Regions from separate parts of the Homo sapiens genome. Here region 2 is linked to region 1. A link means that fine-mapping ties the variant in region 1 to the expression of a gene that starts in the linked region. Tissue or cell type: whole blood. Region 1 holds a variant in brackets; the other region holds the start of a gene. All regions are shown on one strand. Distances are between the middles of the regions.

Region 1 (7,699 bases):
AAAGGACAATGAAGAAAAAAAGCCACAAATGTCCTCTTGTTCACTTCTCTTTAAAGCAATGATAAACATTGTAGGGGAAGCTATAGGAAAAGTTGGACTACAATATTTCTGCTAAATTTTCTCAGAAACAAACGTGTCAAATATGCATTCCAAGCATATTTGAGAAGAACAAGATTATGTTTAGATATGCTGAATGATTCAGACTACCTTTTCATACCATTTGTTTTTGGCAGAGGCAATTATTTTCTCAATAATTTTCAAACTTTTATGTATCTCAGGGATTCTTTTTAAAAACCATGTTTTTGATTCATTTTATTTTAACAATGTTTAACAATGTAAGTCCACATATAAGATACCCAAGCTTTAAATATCTATACATATAAACTGATTTCAACATCTTTGGCTTCAAAACAGTAAAATTGTTTTTCCAATATCAAACAAGTCAAATTTGGAAAAGGCATAAATCTGTATGAACATCCTGTATCCATGGAGATGTCATGACTAAATTCAGAAATAGCCTCATCTCTCTTTGTTTTTGCTTTCTTATGTCTGAGTTCTGCATCCAATTCTGTTTATTACATAGTTTTCTATAAGATTGTACCCCTTTTAAACAGTGTCTATTGATATATATTCTAGGTGTCTGGAAGTCTTTTTCTACAGTCGGCTCTTGGTTGTCTCTGGGAATATGAATGGAAGGAGCAGAGTGAAAATAAATCTGAGGGCAATATTCATAAATAATCCAAGAGCTACACTGTAGTCAACTCTCCCCAGAGCCTGACCACAGTGTTTCCCTCTCTCCTCCTCCCAACCCCTGCCACTGCCTGACGAGCACAGAAATGACCTTGCTTTAGAGAGGAGAAGGACAATAGGAGAAGAGGCATGTTTATCATCAGCCCTGCAGAGTTGACCGCGTGTATAGATGCACTGCCCTTCCAGGCCCAGAGGGAGATTTCCCCTTCAGGAACAAAAAACAGTCAAGCTAACTTACAACTCCCAGAGCGCTGCAAGCAAGGGCTAAAAACTTCAGCCACTCGATCTCCTCCGTGAAGCGACCCACATTCATCACACTATTAAACAGATCTGTTGGGAGATTCACCACTTTCCACATCTGGGCCAGCTCCTCTGCACGGATGATCAGTCTGCCAGCAACCTGCAGGGCAGGGGACAGACACAACACAGAGGTTGTGGGAGAAGTTGAGACAAGGCCCTGAGAAACACCCTGTCCCCAGGCCAGGTCCACATCTCCCAGCACATGGCAAGGGGCGGGAGGGGGTGTTAGGAAGGTAAAGATGGCTCTGTGTGGCAGTTACCTTTGCAAATCCTAGTGAAGAGCATGCTGAAATATAATTTATTAATTGTCAAACTTTAGGTGTCAGAATTATGCAAAAGATATACATTTATATTACATTTTAATTTCTGGTGATGCTTTTATCTGCTATTGTATTCCTAAATTGTTTTATTCCTTATATGACAGATAGAAGAGCCTGAAAACAAAACCAAGGGGTAGAGGGCTTACCTGAGACCACTAATTAACGGTAAAATTAGAACAAGACATAGGTCTGTTTCTTCCCGATTGCACTGAGTTCTTAGCTCTAGACCTCAAGTGCATCCCTCATGCTTTCCCAGGAATGATATGGGGTATGTGGCTGACCCACGGGGATTTGATCTGGCTGCCTAATGTTACTTGATCCCAGGTATTTTAGAGCTCTGTCATGTTCACTGCACAAGGTGCTTGGTGGACAAAAGGAGAGAAGATGACTGGTTGTTGGCCACCAATGCAACAAGAGCACAGATGCCCGATGAAGTGCTCCAACACCTTTCCTGACTGTCTGATTCTAGTGAAATGCTAAGCCTCTGGGACCAAGGTGGTTAGCCAAGCCAGTCCTAAATCACCCCAAACCGCTCTGTCCTGGATCATAAAGCAGGGTTTGGTGGTGCTCAACCATATTTCCTGGGAATTGGCCAAACCACAAACTTTCTCAAGCCGGACCCTCCTCATGCATTCATTCACCAGGCAGCTCCCAGGATGATGTGGCTATGAAGAGGCTCACAGCCTCTCCCTAAAAGCTAAAAGCAATGTCTGGACCTGGGATAACTGGGGAGCTAAAATATGCCCTTCCCCAAACTGTGATTGGCATCATATTATGGTCTTGATCAGTAAGGAGACACTGTCGAGTGACTGAGGACCTGCACTTTTCTGGAGAGACAAGATTAGCATTGCATTGAGCCCCTGTACATTCTGCCAGCTTCAAGGAAATCTGGGATGACCCCACCAATGACTCAGCCTGCAGCCTATTTCAAAATTATTCCCATTTCCCCAAGGGAAGATTTACTTTCAGTCCACGGTTTAGTGTATTTTAGGGTGGTGCTAAGTGGTCAGCTGACTGGCAGGAGAACAGAGGGCTTTCGTCTGTACCCACCCAGCCTCAACACTGTCCCTACATTCTCCTCAATGCTGCAGCAGGGCCCTTACCTGAGAATGCAGGATCTTTAACAGCTCAGGTGTTAGCTCTGCCCAGTTACACAAAGCGACTCGCTCAGACCGCTCTCTCACCGGAGGCGTCTCTCCACGGGACAGGGCCTCAAAATAACTACAAGAAAAAAAGTCAGAGAGTAGGAGGATCCTATACACCAGTGGCCTCTGGCTGTTCTAGCAATCCTTCCCCCTTCTTCTGAGGGAAGGAGGTAGAGAAAGGAACCTTTGTAAAGTGGCTTCTATGTGTCATTGTGTTTAGTTCACTTACATATGGGAAAAGTCTGAATGTGTTACTCTCCACTTAGGGCACAGAGAATGCTTAGAGAATACAAAGCTTTGTTCTTCTCTAAGGATGAGGAAGAACCAAGAAAAGTTTGGGTATGCAATTCCCTGGAGCATATTGGGTTCAGGGTTTTTTTCCAGTCATCTCTGAATGTTTTATACACACAGATATATGTTACATGTGTATATATAATCTTGGGAAGAGAAGTTGGAAGAGAACTAAAAAGTAATGTACGTAAGAAAGGGGAAGGCAGCACAGGAATGGTGGCTACGGCCTGTAATCTGGCAACTGCAGAGCCTGAGCCTGGAGGACCACTGAGCCCAGGAGTTTGAGGAGGCAGCGAACTATAATTGTGCCACTACACTCCAGACTGGGTGACAGAGTAAGACCCCCATCTCTGAAGAAATGAAAAAGGAGGAAAGGGAAGAGATGGAAGCATCCTGGGGTGAATCAGGAAGGATTTCTGGCCGTATGTAGTGAGGCTTGGGGCTTCAAGAGGGAAGGGAGAGAGGGTTGGCAGGGCACTGTGCAAGGCTCAGGAGAGAAGAGAAGCCAAAGAAGGTTTGAGACAACCTTAAGCTATATGGTGCCTGTAAAATAAAACTGTTTCTCCATCTTCCCTCAAAATTTTCAGTGAAATCTGCCTGCTCCTCAATGTTTTGTGGAGTGGACTT[T/C]GTTTGGGGGCATTGTGGAACAAGTACTGAGTTCTGTTTCAGGACTGGCATAAGATGAAAAGAGGCTGCCTGCAGCAGGGAATGGACATGAGCCGCTGACATGTGGGTCACCAAAGCAGCATGGCAGGGTCTGTCTCCATCAAAAGCCTGGTTATTGACGATCCATGAACCACAAATTTCTGTTCCGCCCTGCTTTTTTCCCTCCATTACTTCCTCCAGATCCAGGTAGTATGAAAATAATATAGAGGGAATTTTGTAAAAGCCCACTTTAGGGTCAAGCCATACAATGATGGGCTAACGATTGCCTGTCTCTAAGCCACATAGCAAGGCAGAGTGAAAGCTACATGGACTAAAGGAGTAACTGCCGGTCACCACTTGGAGGTCATCAGCAGGAAGGGCACCTTTAACAATGTGCTTGAGAAATCTCTGCACACAGATCAGTGTTGGGGTGGGCGGGGTGTGGGTGCACTGTGACAACAGGAGCAGGGTGTGGACTCAGGCTTTATAAACCAGACTTCCAGACTTGGGTGGTATAAATGGGAGGGACAGAGACACACAGCACCTCATTCCACAGAAGTGCTGCCCGGGTAGAGTAACACTCAGCAGCAACATCTCTGGACTTCTTGTGGAATTGGTTAGACAACATGGAAGCAAAGCTGTAATCATGGATTTCATTCTTTGGGTTATTGAGCTTCATTTGCAAGTGATCAGGTCCATGGTTATACACATATATTGCAAATTTGAGTTGTAACACATGCCTACCAGAGGACAAATAAGTATATGTCCTGCCAATACCTGGTAAGAGGTTTCTTCATTGACAACACATATGTAGGGAAATTCTTACTTGCAATGGATTAAAAACGTATTTTGTCTTGGAAACACTTTGCAGAGTTTTATTCTCTAAAATGCTACAGGTTTTAAGTAAGTCACATACAACCATCTGAGCAGTGCTTTTCATGTCTGGATAGAATGGAGGGGGCTCTTAGGTCATGCCCTCCTTTTTCATTGTGGTTAAACTACAAACTAAGTTTTCATGGATGTCTAAAAAAATTATAGCACGTGATACAATACGAGAGCAAGCAGTCTACAATAGTGGAATGCCTCTTCCATAAATGTCAGGGACAATACTAAGCAATGTCATTTTGCTTACTATAAAACGGCAGCACAAGAACAATCAAATGGGTTTGAAACTAACGTATAAGATAAAGTCTGTCTATCTGACTATGCCAAAATAAATTAGTCTTCTGAAGCTAAAGTTCAATCTTAGAGGCAATATATAAAATTTAGAATGGAAAACTAAACAGGGCTTATTACTAGGCAAAGCAACCCCCATTTATGTTTCTTTTTATGAGCACCACTGGCCTATTTTCCTTCCAATTGTAAAAGCTGCATCCTAATCCAGACCAGGAGCACAACACTGGCCCAGAGACTCCGAAAGGCCCCTCTTAGGTGCCATTTTGTGTCTTCTCAAAGGTGTCCACACTCTCCCCACCATCTGCCCAGGACACCCACTCACAACCTCAGCCTGAGGACATCTTCCCTTCCCCAACTCACTGGCTTTCTCTCAACGGCCTCTCTCACTCTCACTTTCCCACTGAAACCCTCCTAAGCAGGGAATCATCAAACAGTAAAAATAGCCTGAAAATGGTCCGTGAGGTCTAGTTATCTTCCAACTCCTGTCTCAAGTCCTGGTTCCCCAGTTTCAAGCAGGCAAGTTTGTCCAAGGAGCAATTTCATAGCTGAGAGGCTTTCTGTGCAAAGCTACTTCAATCCAGGCCCGCAGCGATTGTTGTGTAAGCTCCATCTACTGAGCAGCCTCTGGAGGTCTCTCCTGAAAGAAGGCACCCGTGTTTGAGGCACACTGTTTTCAGCCATGCCTGAGGACCCCATCACTCTGCCTGGCCTTTCCCCAGAATGCAGTGTGTACTGTGAGGACATCATTATGTTGGCAGAACAAATCAGTTCAGAGAAACACCAAAGAAAATAACAATAATTTCCTCAAAGATACAAAGCCTCTTTGGTTGGGTCCAAGTATGAGTTTTAACAGCAGGGGAGGAAGTGTCTCCTTAAAGGAGTGAACTAGCAGGACTGGTCCCACCCCATCCACCCAGGGCTGTCGCTTCCCTCCCCCGGCTGCACTGCTGCCATCTAGTGGTGAGACAGGAGAATGAAGAAAGGCAGATTAAGCTGCGGAGATTCCCAGCCCTTCTTTCCACCGAGAGTGGGAAAAGGCGTGCAGGGAGGAGGTGGGTGTGCATACGCTGGTGTGACGCGGTCATCTAACTTGCTGCTTGCCCCAGGACACGGCCTATTGACCTGGCGTCCTACTGCTCAATCTGGCTCGCTTAGGGGAGGCATCCCATCCTTGCCCGGCTAGATGTAGTATTTATGTGTGGATTTTAAAGCATCAAAGCAATGCAAGAGCTAAAACAAAGACGATGCCAGTTAGTCCCGACCCCCTGGCTGCAGCCATGACAACCTCCGCGGTTTTACAGGACCCTCTCTCCCCGCCCGTCCTCCAAGAGATGAAGGCGAGAAAGGAGCACGTACTCGGCCCCCCACTGGATGAGGTCCTGCGGCTGCGCCCGAATGGCGGCTTTGGCAAACTCCTTCAGCATTTTCGGCAGCTCCGGCGGGATGCATGTTGGCTTATCTGTCTGAGCCATTGATTGGTTGACCTATTCTCAGGAGAAAAAATACATAAGATGAAAACTTGGACTCATAAGATGAGAGCAATCCTGGACAGGAGGTCACCCAGCCTCTGTTTGACACTCAATTTTGGGGACTCCGCAAGACAAATGCATTCTATTGTTACACAACGGCAAGGTTAGAAAGCCGTCTGCTAACCCCTACTTTTTGTTGTAAATAGTTATATCCTTTACGTAAAAATTACACAGTCCTTTTTTATTTAAAAAGTGGAAGTCAACAAAAAAATCCCTAATGGTATCACCCTAAAATATTGGATGTCTCCTTCCAGAATTTTTCAGTATAAATATATATGTTTGTAAAACAAAAAAATAAGATTATGCAAAACAGCTTATTTACTCAAAAGTATATCATGAACATCTTTGCATGTCATCCAGCTCTTATTAGCTAGGTAAGAATTGTAGCAAAATTTACTCTGAACCCTCTATGAATTAACATTAGGTTATTTCCATATAAAAATAGTCATTAAACAGCCATTTGATGAGCGTCTCTGTTTATAGCTGCATGTTTTTTCAACTCTAATTGTCAGGCGGAAAACTCGTACATTTTCTCTCAAAAAGTTCCAGGACAAATTGAAACAAAACATGAACATCCATAAAATATATACAATTCCATCCACAAATAAACAACAGATCAAAAGATTTTTTTCTGCTTTTAGTAGAGAAAGGGACAGACTAGATATGCTAAAAAGCTGTCCCTCTTCAAAACACCTAGAGGCCAGACAAATCTCAGTACAAGCCTTTCACATTGCCTTGCTGGGCTTGCAGTGAAGTGAGAGAAATCTTCCAGTGGCCAATGAGGTGAGGAAAGGGGAACCCGCAGTGCTGGGCAAATGAAGAAACTAGGGCTCACCTGGGCACATGTAGATGGCAGGAACTTGAAGCTTTGAGATAAATTGCTAGGCAGGGTGGATAGAGACCAAGGATTAGGCTCACAAAAGGCAAATGTCTGGACTAAAGGACTCCCCTTCTGACCTAAACTTGAGACCCGCCCAGGGACTACACCCTCAGCGTGAAAAGGTGTGGCTGAAAATATCTGCCTACAGGCTGGGGTAAGCAACAAAGAAACCTGTCTCCATTGCTGCTTCTAGTCAGGAGAGAAACAGTCCCCCAGGAGTTGGTAGCCACAGACTAGTTCTAAGTTTTCCATTTATACCAACACCAGCATGGCTCGGAAATCCCAAGACAAGAAACTAAAGTGGTCTTAGATTGGTGGGACTTCATGACCTTTTACTTTATTTATGTTCTTTTATTTGGAGGAAAAGGATGATAAAATAATGATTAATTTTAGACTTTGCAAAGTATTAGAAAAGTTTTAACAGTAATAACCACTAAATCTGTACAGAGGAAAAAAGGATTTTTTAAAATTTTTTTAGTATTTATTGATCATTCTTGGGTGTTTCTCGGAGAGGGGGGAAGAAAGGAATTTTTAAAAAACACAAAAAAGCAAACAAAACATGCCTCCCAATGTGAAATGGCAGCCCAACGTATACCTGCCAAGTGCTGAAGAATGTAGGTCTTAAAATAGACTGTATAGTCTTGTTTCAGGGATTTCTCACTT
Region 2 (6,989 bases), 110 kb before region 1:
TTATTCCATTACCTTTACCTGATTAATTTATTTGTTTACCTGGATTATTAACAAAAACTGTGACAGTCATTATTGAAGTTATTTCCCTGTTAACCATTTTTATAGCTGTGAATTTCAGGTGTTTACTTCAATAATGAACTTATGATTAAATATAAGAGTATTTTTTCCAGTAACTCATGATTTAGCTGTTTTCATTAAACCAACCATATTCCATGTCTTATTTATCAAAAATTATACAAGCAAAGATCATTCTGTCTTGGGCTGGGTTTTATAGTTTTATAACCCTATGGCTAATCTTATAGTATTCTGAAGGAATAAGCATGAAGCTACTTGATCAATAAATGCAAACAAAAATACTAACAATTCTTAGAACATTTTAATTTTTTTTACCAATGATTTTAAAGACAGTTTATTTATTAAATATTTTACTTGTCACGTGAACTTGAAAAGCATTGATTAGTATTTTTTGATCAAGTATTTAAGTGCTTTTATTTTTACTTAAGCTAATTAGAGCTCTTTTACATATTTTTAGTAGTGACACATTGTGTACACAACACATAAATGCATAGCGTATTAGGCATGGCAATAGAAGTACATCTTATGTATTTGTAAGACCTCTTTTTCCCTTAGACTTTTAAATTCATGATAGCCTGTTTCATCACCCTGGGCAGTTGTCAGCTAAATAGTCCTACATTTGCATATTAAAGGAAACAACTCTTAGGTGAAAAATCAGATAGCAAAATTTACATCTCAAAGTACCAAGAGACAGTCTGGTTTGCTAGAGGGAAATTAAAATGGATTTAATTTGCCATTTAAACAAAATTATAGAAGTCTATTATAAAATCCTTTTAAATACACACACACACACACACACACACACACACACACACACACAGATCCTATAGCTTTTACTTCAGAACTTTAGCCATGAGATAAATACAAATTCCCCAGCTTGCAAAAAAAAAAAAAAAAAAAAAAAAAAAAACAAGAAAACAAAGAAAAAGAAAAATAGGTTAGATCCAAACAGTGGTTTTTAATTTCAGTACAAAAGTAAAAGCAGATTTAAAGCAGGCAGAAAATATAGAGAAGAAGAGAACTTAGGAACTCTATAGTGTACAGGTTGACCTTAGGGCTCTTTTCCTTAATGTAAATGTGCACAAGGATCATTATATTTCCATTTTACATAAGCTCTGGCAAGTAGACGCACCATAAAACCAACAGAGTGCCCGAAATGAGGTCATTCTCCTTGTTTTCTCCTCATTCTTAGATCATTTGTTTCCCACCTTTTTTTTTCTTAGAAGTAGGAACTGAGCTGTGGCCTAGGGTTTTTGTGTGGTGGATCAATGTGTGCTGCTTGTGGGCAGGACCCCACCATGTGTCACCACTGAGTTGTTTCCACCCTGTTACATGTCTCAGTTTCTCTCTCCAGAGGTCTATTACCTTTGAGAGGGCTCAAAATGATGGGTGATCAGTCCTTATATGCATTCCTGGACAAGCCATTTTTAAAATTAATTTTTGTTGGGGATTTCCCCATAGGGCTGCTGCATGTCACAGGATGTCAACCCCCCCCCAGACACTCCCACAAGGCCCCCAGTCACCCAGGAGCACGTTTTGGCTGGGAGGAGCAAATGCCTTTCTCTTTGGAGTTGAGAAAACTCAGTCTCTCATTTACCTATGAAAACAACAGTTCAATTCCTCACACAAATGCGCAGACAAGCCGAATCAAGATTAATTTTGGGAGAAAAAGCAATAAAGAAAACCCTTTAGAATGTGTCTCTGAACTAGAATTAGAATCCTTAAACAACAACTTCCTAGGAGAAAAACCAGCTCACACTAAACGAAGGACTGTCAACCAAAGGGCGATCTGGGGCTCAGGAGAACTTAACCAGTTCCATCGGGGGAGAAGCTAGAAGTCTGGGAGGCTTCAATGGGCCCCACTGGTATCTTCGCTCCGAGTTCAGGCAACTCCTTTGGGGTCCTGAGTCTTCTCTGAGGCCCCACGCTGGGTGCCAAATTATTGTGGAAGAGTCAAACTCTGTAAAATATTTGAAGAGATTTATTGTGAGCCAAATATGAGTGACCACAGCCAGTGACACAGCCTTCAGGAGGTCTTGAGAACATGTGCCCAAGGAGGTCGGGGTGCAGCTTGGTTTAATACATTCTGAGGAGGCATGAGACTTCAAGTTAAGTTCATTTAAGAAATAAATTTGTTTGATCCAGAAAGGCAGGAAAACTCAAAGAGGGGGAGGGTGGTTCTAGGGTATAGGTCAACTTAAACATTTTCTGGTTGACAATTGGTTGAGTTTGTCCAAAGACCTGGGATTAAAGAAAGGAATGTCTGGGTTAAGAGGTTGTGGAGACCAATGTGTTTTATCACGCAGATGAAGTATTCGGATAGGGTAGCAGGCTTCAGAGAGAAGAGGCTGTAAAATGTTTCTTATCAGACTTAAAGTCTGTGTTGATGTTAATGCAGGAGAGGGATAATGAGGCATGTTCGGCCTCCACTTCCCCTTATGGCCTGAACCAGTTTTTCAGGTTAAATTCTAAAAGTCCTGGCTGAGGAAGAAGTCCATTCGGATGATTTGGTGGTTGGGAACGGGGAGGTGCCTTATCATTTATTTTTTGGTTTAAAATATAATGATATATTTTACCAAGTCTTGTGAACCATCAGGCCTCCCTCAGGCCCGGACTGGGAATTGCCAATTTCGTTAGGTGTGACCGTAATACTATGAGAATGTTTAAAAAAATAGGCCTTACTGATTAAACATACTCGAGTATTTAAAGGAGAATTTATCCACTGGGATGCTTTAAAATTACTCTGGGAAAAAAGGGAAAACGAAAGGCATGTGTGGGGTGAAGCACAGACTTGTCGTTGTTGTTTTTAAAGCAAAAGGCGGGTCCCAAGGGAAGTTGGCTGTCGGTGGGTTCCCGTTCTCCGTACCTTTCTACCTTGACAGCTCCATAATAAAACCTGCAGCCGCATAGGCGCCTCTCCCGTAGCGCTCCCGCGGGGGCGCCAGTGGGGCCCCAGCTGCGAGGAGGGCCCGGGCTCGCGAGACTCGGTCCCCCACTTCCGTCCCCGCGATCCCCGGCTCCCAGCCCCCCGGGCCCCCGGCGGGGCTCTGCGCTGCCGGAGCTTGGGCGTCTGCTGCTGTCCCGGAGCGCCAAGTCGTCCGAGGTCCGGCCGCCCGGCCGGGGCGGGGCCAGGGAGGCCCGGCCTTCCCGCTTCCTGCCTGAGCCGCAGGCCCGCCCCTGCGTCCTCCGCCCGCCTCTTTCCCGCCGCCGCCTGGGAGGGGACCCGGTAAGCGCGGCCCTGTTCCGGGCGGGGTTGGGGCGGAAGGTGGGGTCAGCTGGGGCCCAAGGGGGGTCGGGGAGGCGCGCGGGAGAGGGCGCCCGGGAGTGGGTGCGCGGGAGGCGAGTGAGCCGGGCGCCGGGCCCTGGGGGCTCGGCGGGAGGGGGAGTCAGGTGGGGACCGGGATTTGGGGGACTCGGTGGGGGAAAGGCGCGCGGGAGATGAGGTAAACACGAGGGGTCGGAGGGGCGGCCTGGGGCGGGGTGGGGCCATGCCTGGGGTAGGCCACGCCTCGGGGAGGCCGGGAGAGAACCCAGGCGCTGGGGGTCGCGGGGGAGCCGGCCGGTCCTACCCTTAGGTGTCTGAGGCCGCTCCCCACACCGCTGCGGTGTGCATTCAGCGGCCCTGTCTCCTCCTTCCTGGCCTGCTCAGGGCACGGCTCCTGGTTGGATGTCACACGCGTGACTCCTGCAGCGCCCGCGCGCAGGGACCCCTCGCTGCCTCAGCCAGACCTCCCGCCAGCCTCTACCACAGGCTCAGCCCACTGTCCTGGGTGGGCTCGGTGCAAACCTCTGGTGAAGAAAACCTCCTGGGGGTGCCCAGCCGGGAGTCTGTCTCAGAGTCCCACACTCTCTCCATCCAGGAGAGCCGGTGGGATAGGTCTCTTTAAAATCCCGTTATTTATTTGTTTATTTTTTCCTCTTTCTTCCAGTTTTTTCCATATGACTTTAGTGATCAAATCCCACTTTTTTTTAGAAGGCTTTTTTTACACCAGTGGTTTTCAAACTGTGGTCCCAGGACCAGCAGCACTGCCTTTCCTGAGATCTGCTAGAAATGCGGGTTCCCCAGCCCCACCCTGACCTTCTAAATCCTAAACCTTGGGGGTGGGTCCCCATACTTGTCTTTAGCAGGTCCTCCTCGTGGTTCTGACCATTGATCTGAAACCTTAGGGCTTTGAGGAGTCTGAACTGGGGTTGAGGATGGGCCAGGTGCCCTGTGATGATAATGCATGACTCCATTTAATCTTCACAGCCCTACACAGTAGGTAGTATTACCCCATTTCACAGATTAGGCAACAGAGGTACAGAAAGTTTAATTTTTCCAAGGTCACAGACCTAGAAAGGGGAGGAGCTGGGATTCCAACCTTGGGTTCCGGCTCCAGAACATTCCCACTGAGGCGAGGTCCCCTGTGAAGGTGGGGAGGGGTGAAGCCCAGAGGTCCTGGCGGCCTCCCTGCCAGGCAGAAACCATTAGTTCCAGAATCACGACCAGCCAGGTGCGTGGTCAGCAGTGGCCCTGCCTGCCTGCCTTTGGGCGAGCCCTGGTCTGTGTGAGCTGCTGGGTCCAGGTCCCCGGGCAGGATGTGTTCGCACTGGGGTGCTGACGGGGCGCCTAGAGGCCTGGGTCCAAGGCCAACCTCACAGGGTGACACAGGGATGCTTCTGGGTGACAGAGTGTCCGTTTCCTCCTCAGTCTGATGGGGGCGGATACCCCCCAACCCCATGCTGGCAGCTGGGAGGGTGGGCAGCCTCACAGACTCAGGCGTGGCTCTGAACTGTGGCCCCAGGTGGTCCACAACCTGTCCTGCCCAGCCTAGCCCCTTTCAAGGCACAAGGGTCTCTGACCACTGCCCCATAGCAGGGTTTCTCGGCCTCCACACTACTGACATTTGGGGTGGGGCAGTTCTTTGTTTTGGGGGGCTGTCCTGTATCACCCCCTGTCGGGACAACCAAAACCATGTGCAGACATTGCCCAATGTCCTCTGTGGGGACCTTGGAGGCAATGCCTCCACTGGCATCTTCTGGCATCTTGGCTCCTCCCTGGGGCTCTGGGATTAGAGGTTTCCTGGCCCACAGCCCACTTTCCCACAGGAGCCTCCTCCAGCCTGTGCTTGGTTGTTCATCTGCACGAGCTGTCAGTGACACAGGGACATTGGAGCATGTTCTCCTTGCAAACACTCCAACATTCAGGTGGAGCTGAGGGGCCTTTGGCCATGTCCACAGCTGGGAGATCCCCCACCCTGCAAGGGGCACAGAGCAGGTGTGGTGCTGACACCAGCTGGGCCCTGCTCCCGGGTCACCCTGGCCAGGCCTTCCTCTGGCACCATGTGCAGGCACAGTGAGGGTGGACCAGGGCTGGGGCTCTCTAGGTACAGCTGCACACGTGTTCCCAGCATGAATCACGGATCAGGGCTGCGCCAGCACCTGCCGCTCTGGTGTTTGCTGTCACCAAGCACAGTGGCTGCGCACTCTTGGGTTAACCTCCTCAGGCACGCGTGTGAGTGACTCACCAAGACTGTGGCTGAGTGAGGATGTGTGGCCTGGAGTGGTCACTGCCCAGTTGCCTCTGGCAGAGGCAGACCCAGAGCCCTGTGGCTGTGTTCCAGGCCCTTCTCCCCACCCCTTGCCCTAGTGGTGGTGAGGTGAGGTGCATCACACCAGGTTCATTTATTTATATTAAAAAAATTTTATTGACACATAATAGATGTACATATTTTTGAGTTGCCTGTGATAATTTAACACGTTCATGTAACTTGTAAAGATCAAATCAGTGCAATATAGACATCCATCATTTTAGAGATTGGTCTTTTATTCCAGAAACATTTGAATTCTAGCTATTCCGAAATATAAAATAGATTATTGTAAACTATAGTCACTGTATTGATTCATCAAACACGATTTCTTATTTCTTCCATCAAACTGTGTATTTCTAGCCATTAACCATCCTCCCTTTTTCCCCCTGTCCCGCCACAGGCTTTGGTAACCATTGAACTTTCTACCTCCTTGAGATCCCCTCCTTCAGCGCTCACATATGAGTGAGGCCATGTGATGTTTGTCTTTCTGTCCACGGCTTATTTCACTGAATGTAATGACCTCCAGTTCCATCTATATTGTTGCAGATGACAGGATCTCATTCTTCTTTATGGCTGAATAGTACTCCATTGTGTATATGTACCGCATCTTCTTTATCCTTTCATCTGGTATGGAAACTTAGGTTGATCCATATCTTAGCTATTGTGAATAGTGCTGCAAGAAACATGGGGTACAGATATCTCTTCAATATCCTGGTTTCCTTTCTTTTGGATATGTACCCATTAGTGGGATTGCCGGATCATATGGTAGTTCTGTTTTTAGTTTGTTTTTTTTTTTCAGAGATGGAATCTCGCTCTGTTGCCCAGGCTAGAGTGCAGTGGCACAATCTCAGCTCACCACAACCTCCACCTCCTGGGTTCAAGTGACTCTCATGCCTCAGCCTCCCAAGTAGCTGGAACTACAGGCGTGTGTCACCACACCCAGCTAATTTTTTGTATTTTAGTAGAGATGGGGTTTTGGCATGTTGGCCAGGCTGGTCTCAAGCTCCTGGCCTCAAGTTATTCTCCCACCTTGGCCTCCCAAAGTGCTGGGATTACAGGCTTGAGCCACTGCATCTGGCTTGCTTTTAGTTTTTAAAGGAACTTCCATACTGTTCTCCATAGTGGCTGAACTAGTTTACATTCCCACTAACAGTGTACGAGGAACACTTTCTCCACATCCTTACCAGTGTCCATTATTCCCTGTCTTTTTTATAAAAGCCATTTAAAATGGGGTGGGATAATATCTCATTGTGGCTTTGACTTGCATTTCTCTCATGATTAGTGATGTTGAGTACTTTTTGCATATATGTGAGCCATTTATGTCTTCTTTTGAGAAATATCTAT

The links. PIP is the estimated chance that this variant, and not a neighbour inherited with it, causes the effect.
Region 2: SLC41A3 starts here. The variant in region 1 is fine-mapped to the expression of SLC41A3 in whole blood (TOPMed, PIP above 0.99). The same link has a PIP of 0.9 or more in blood mononuclear cells.

Annotation. Positions count from the first base shown.
Region 1 is chr3:125,970,455-125,978,153 of GRCh38, reverse strand. ROPN1B (rhophilin associated tail protein 1B) reads right to left here. Exons shown (of 7, transcript NM_001308313.2): 2 at 6,992-7,037; 3 at 5,984-6,111; 4 at 2,474-2,591; 5 at 989-1,150. The coding sequence starts at 6,099. It also overlaps the pseudogene ALG1L1P. Among named protein-coding and RNA genes, the nearest start is that of ROPN1B, 5.1 kb to the right of the region's middle. The variant T/C (reference allele first, on the strand shown) is at 3,434.
Region 2 is chr3:126,080,405-126,087,393 of GRCh38, reverse strand. It overlaps SLC41A3 (solute carrier family 41 member 3), which reads left to right and starts at 3,270. Exons shown (of 11, transcript NM_017836.4): 1 at 3,270-3,301. ALDH1L1-AS1 (ALDH1L1 antisense RNA 1) reads right to left here and starts at 3,179. Exons shown (of 8, transcript NR_190231.1): 1 at 2,942-3,179. RefSeq lists silencers at 2,923-3,472, 3,513-3,622.